Linked DNA regions of Homo sapiens: region 1 is linked to region 2. Evidence: fine-mapped expression QTL. A gene starts in region 2. The other region holds a variant in brackets. All regions are shown on one strand. Distances are from middle to middle. Region 1 overlaps LOC105370438 (a long non-coding RNA gene). Region 2 holds the start of GPR33 (G protein-coupled receptor 33).

Region 1 (2,802 bases), 61 kb after region 2:
AATTTTTAAGTTTTATGGAAGTATGGTAGTTGTATATATTTATGGGGTACATGTGAGATTTTGATATAAGCATATAATGTGTAATGATCAAATCAGGGTAACTGGGATAACCATCACCTCAACCATTTATTTTTTTTTTTTTTTTGGGGTTAGGAAGATTCCAATCCCACTCTTCTATTTATTTTTAAATATACAATGAATTATTATTAACTGTAGTCACCCTATGTTGCTACTGAACACTAGAGCTTATTCCTTCTATCTAACTGATTTTTGTACCTATTAACCAGCTCATATTTATCGCCCTTCCACACTGCCTTTCCCAGCCTCTGATAACCATCAATGTATTCTCTATCTTCATGAGATCAAGTTTTTCACATATGCGTGAGAACACATGATATTTGTCTTTCTATGCCTGGCTTATTTCACTTAACGTAATATCCTCCAGTTCTATTCATGTCGTTGCAAGTGACAAGATTTCATTCTTTTTTATGGCTGAATTATATCCTATTGTGTATATATACCACATTTTCTTTATCCATTCATCTGTTGATGGATGGACACTTAAGTTGATTCCATATTTTGGCTATTGTGAATACTGCTGCAATAAACATGAGAGTGCAGATATCTCTTTGATATGTTGACTCTCTTTCTGGTTATATACCCAGCAGTGGAATTGCTGGATCAAATGGTGTTTCTAGTTTTTTATTGTTTTGTTTTTTTTTTTGAGACGGAGTCTCCCTCTGTTGCCCAGGCTGGAGTTCAGTGGCGTGAACTTGGCTCACTATAACCTCCGCCTCCCGGGTTCAGGTGAGTCTCCTGCCTCAGCCTCCCAAGTAGCTGGGACTACAGGCACCTGCCACCACGCCCAGCTAATTTTTGTATTTTTAGTAGAGACGGGGTTTCACCATTTTGCCCAGGCTGGTCTTGAACTCCTAACCTTGTGATCTGCCTGCCTCGGCCTCCCAAAGTGCTGGGATTACAGGTGTGAGCCACCGCACTTGGCCAGTTTTAGTTTTTTGAAGAAGTTCCATATTTTCCATAGTGGCTGTACTAATTTATATTCCCACCAACAGTGTAGAAGGGTTCCCCTTTCTCCACATCTTCACCAGCATCTGTTATTGCCTGTCTTTTTGACAAAAGCCATTTTAACTGGGGTGAGATGATATCTCATTACGGCTTTGATTTGATCTGATAATTAGTGATGTTGAACATTTTT[A/T]AAAAACCTGAATATCTGTATATATTTATTTGTACATCTTCTTTTGAGAAATGTCTATTCAGATCTTTTTCTCACTTAAAAATCAGACTTTTTTTTTTCTGCTTTTGAGGTGTTTGAGCTTCTTATGTATTCTGGTTATTAATCCCTTGTCAGATGGGTAGTTTTCAAATATTTTCTCCCATTCTGTGAGTGGTCTCTTCACTTTGTTTCCTTAGCTGTGTAGAAGCTTTTTAGCTTGATATGATCTCATTTGCCCACTTTTGCTTTGTTTGCCTATACTTTTGAGTTCTTACTCAAGAAATCTTTGCCTGAACCAATGTCCTGGAGCATCTCCTCAATGTTTTCTTCTAGTAGTTTCAAGTTTCAGCTCTTAGATTTAGGTTTTTATTTTGATTTGACTTTTGTGTATGGTGAGAGATAGGGGTCTAGTTTCATTCTTTCTCACATGGACATCTAGTTTCCCCAGCACCATTTATTGAAGAGACTGTTCTTTTCCTAATGTATGTTCTTGGTCCCTTTATTGAAAATGTGTTGACTGTAAATGCATGAATTTATTTCTGGGTTCTCTATTCTGTTCCATTGGTGTATGTGTCTGTTTTTATGCCAGTACCATGTTGTTTTGGTTACTATAGCTTTGTAGTATGATTTGAAGTCAGGTGGCTTTGTAATATAATTTGATGCCTCTAGCTTTGTTCTTTTTGCTTATGATTGCTTTGGCTATTCTGGTTCCTTTGTGGTTCCATATAAATTTTAGGATTGTTTTTTCTATTTCTGTGAAGAATGTTATTGGTATTTTGATAGGGTTTGCATTGAATCTGTAGATTGCTTTGGGTATTATGGACATTTTAACAATATTGATTTTTCCAATCCATGAACATGGAGTATCTTTTTCCTTTATTTTTTTCATTAGTGTTTTACAGTTTTCATTTTAGAGATCTGTATTAGTCCATTCTCACACTGCTATAAAGAAATATCTGAGACTGGGTAATTTATAAAGAAAAGAGGTTTAATTGGCTCATGGTTCTGCAGGCTATATAGGAAGTGTGGCTGGGGAGGCCTCAGGAAACTTACAATCATTGTGGAAAGTGGTCATTGTAGAATGTGAAGGGGAAGTAGACACATCTTCACATGGCCAAAGCAGGAGGAAGACTGAGATGGGGGAGTTGCCACACACTTTTAAAAAACCAGATTTCATAAGAACTCTATCAGTAGAACAGCACCAAAGGAGGAAATCTGCCTGCATGATCCAATCACCTCCCATCAGGCCCCACCTCCAACATTGGGTATTACAACTCAACGTGAGATTTGGGTGGATACACAAATCCAAACCATATCAACTTCTTCTCTTTCTCCTTCTCCTTCTTCCTCTCTTCCTCTCCTCCTTCTCCTCCTTCTCTTCCTCCTCCTGCTCCTCCTCTTCCTCCTCCTCCTTCTCCTTCTTCTCCCTCTTTTTTTTTTTTGACGGTCTCACTTCCATTGCCCAGGCTGGCATACAGGGGTGCAATCTTGGCTCACTGTAGCCTCAACTTCCTGGACTCAGATGATCTTCCCACCTCAACCTCCTGAGTAGCTGGGACTACAGGTGC
Region 2 (2,802 bases):
AAAAAGTGGAGTCTGAAGCATATGAAATGGACAGGCAATGGCAAATAAAAGAATGAGAACTTGAGAGAGAGGTTTTGTGAAGGCCCTGGGACCTTAAGAAGAGGGTGGAAGACGAGGATGATTTTAAGACAGGCAGCACAGAAAAAAACTCAGCAGGATGTTAGGAGCCCTACAGAGGAGAAAGGGTCAATGAAGTATTCTGAGAAGCAGAAATGACACAGGGGATTTAAAAATAGGAATGTCTAATAATTATAATCTATTTGCTATGCTTTGATATGGTATAGTGTCCCTTTTCCCCATTAACCCTCAGCTGTCTTGTGTTGGTGGTGGTTCTGGGGAATCAAAGTCTCTGTGGTGTTTTTATCCATGGAGTATGTGTAGAGGTGTGTCTGTGATCAGTGTATGTGTATCTCAGTGTATTTGTGTGATCTCTGTGTATGTATGTGTCTGTGGTCTTTGTATGTTTTTCTGTGGAATGTGTGTATGTGTAGTGTTTGTGTGTTTGTGTTGTATGCGTGTGGTCTCTTTATGTGTGTGCATATGAGAAACTAGATACCCGAATTATGGGAAAGATTTTTTTTTAATTGTGCATCTGAGCTCTAGAAGGACATCTGAAAGTAATGTAGAACATGGGCAAAATCATAGTAAAACTTTTCTGATCAATGTTGGTAGTGATTCTGAATATCATATAAAGTTTCCTAGGAATTCTGATTTATTGCACATAACCAGGAGATTTCTTCATCCTTAAACACCTTTAAAATGATGTTAAAGTACTTGAGAATAAATAAATGGGGCAGATCTCAGACTCTGGCATCCCACAGACCTGGGTTTGTATCCTACCTCTACCACTTACCAGCTCTGCAAGTTCAGATAACTTGTTGAGACTTTTTCTCCTGCTAAGCCCCTCAGTTTTTTTTTTTTTTTTTTTTTTTTTCAGATGGAGTCTTGCTCTGTCCCCCAGGCTGGAGTGCAATGGCGTGATCCTGGCTCACTGCAACCTCCGCCTCCTGGGTTCAAGTGATTCTCCTGCCTCAGCCTCCTCAGTAGCTGGGACTACAGGCACCTGCCACCATGCCTGGTTAAATTTTGTATTTTTAGTAGAGATGGGGTTTCACCATATTGGCCAGGCTGGTCTTGAACTCCTGACCTTGTGATCTGCCCGCCTCAGCCTCCCAAAGTGCTGGGATTACAGGCATGAGCCACCGTGCCCAGCCACAGGCGGCTTTCAGGAAGACCCCACCTCCACTTGGGAACACTGAGCTGCTGGCGCAGGGGAAGGCCACAGGAGCATCGGGAAGCTAATGTGCAATAAGCCTAGAGGGTCAATTCGGATGATAGCTCTAGGATAAACCTACTAGTCCAGAGAATCTTACCTCAGACCTGTATCTTCATGCCAGATTGGTCTTGAGCAGGCCAAAGTGACTCTACACCATCAATTTCTCACTAGGAACAGAGTGAACAAAATCAGTGACACTTTGCCTTCATTTCATATGTCTTTCTTCTTGCTGATGCTACTCCCCAAGCTTGAACTTGCTATTATTTAAATACTCAGTGAGGTCTTTTCCTCTTTTTGGTTCCTTTTTTTCTGTGGAATTTACTGCTATAGAGGTATAGAGAAATGAGTACTTCTTCAAATTATTTCTCCATTTTGAGGGGCATTAAAAAAAATCTGTAAGTGACCAAGTGCAGTGGCTCACACCTGTAGTCCCAGTGCTTTCTGAGGCCGAGGCAGGAGGACAACTTGAAGCCAGGAGTTAGAGACCAAAATAAAAAAAAAAAATAGCCGGGCCTGGTGGTGCACACCTGGCACACCTGTAGCACTAGCTACTCAGGAGGAGAGGCTGAGGCAGGAGGATCACTTGAGCCCGGGAGTTCGAGGCTGCAGTGTGCTATGATCATGGTGGTGAATAGCCACCACACTCCAGCCTGGGCAACAGAGTGAGACCCTGCCTCTCAAAAGAGAGAGAGAGAGAGAGAATGAATTGCATAAGCTAAGTCATTTCATTTAAAAGGTTAATAAACTTGTTTCGGGTGTTAATTCCCTTCTCGTATTGGGTCATCCCGCCAGGCACCCACTCTGCCTCAACTCTAGGGTGTTTATTAGCAGATGGATGGATGGTGTTGGGTACATAAGGAGGTGGTAAATATCAGGCAGAGACCAAAATAAACTCTGGAAATGAGCTATCTAATCTTTCTGGACAGAAAATAGTTAGAAGGAAAAACTTAAATACTGAGTTTCACATTAAAATGGAATTTATGAGGACAGGCCAGAGATTTATATTATTCAGTTTGGGTTGATGAAGACTGACAGGCAGAACAATCTGCATTTGTATGATGGTTGTAGAACGGTTGGAAAAAAACAGAATTGGTTACTACATCCTAGAAGATGATCTCATTATAAGGAATCTTCCAACACAGGTAATGCATTTATGAACCATTACTGACTGAGTTCTACATTTCCTATGTTCTTCTCTCTAATCTATCTCTGAAATTTTTTTTGGATCCCCTTCTGTGCTGACCTCAGTGTCCTGATTTTTTTCCTGCCTGCTTTCCTCTTCATCTCTTCATTACCAGTGGAGAAAATACATCAAAACCACTGTGCAGCGTTGGTGGTCAAGAGTTTAGGAATCAAAACCATTACCCAGTCTTTGTTAGACTTAGAATTTTAAAACTTTAACTGCTAGATTGTAGCCTTATTAAAAATAGGCTTAAATTTCAGTTCTTAATTCATTTGTGGCTGTGACCTTCAACCTAAGAACTGATCTTTGCAGGTTAAGGATAAATTTTCAAACCTGCTACTGT

Evidence for each region. PIP is the estimated chance that this variant, and not a neighbour inherited with it, causes the effect. A credible set is the group of variants that fine-mapping cannot tell apart.
Region 1: its variant is the best candidate, but not a certain one, in a credible set for the expression of GPR33 in whole blood (TOPMed, PIP 0.53).

What each region holds. Positions count from the first base shown.
Region 1 is chr14:31,547,347-31,550,148 of GRCh38, forward strand. All of the region lies in intron 2 of LOC105370438 (a long non-coding RNA gene), which reads left to right. Among named protein-coding and RNA genes, the nearest start is that of NUBPL-DT, 13 kb to the right of the region's middle. The variant A/T (reference allele first, on the strand shown) is at 1,217.
Region 2 is chr14:31,486,524-31,489,325 of GRCh38, forward strand. It overlaps GPR33 (G protein-coupled receptor 33), which reads right to left and starts at 1,516. Exons shown (of 2, transcript NM_001197184.3): 1 at 1,374-1,516.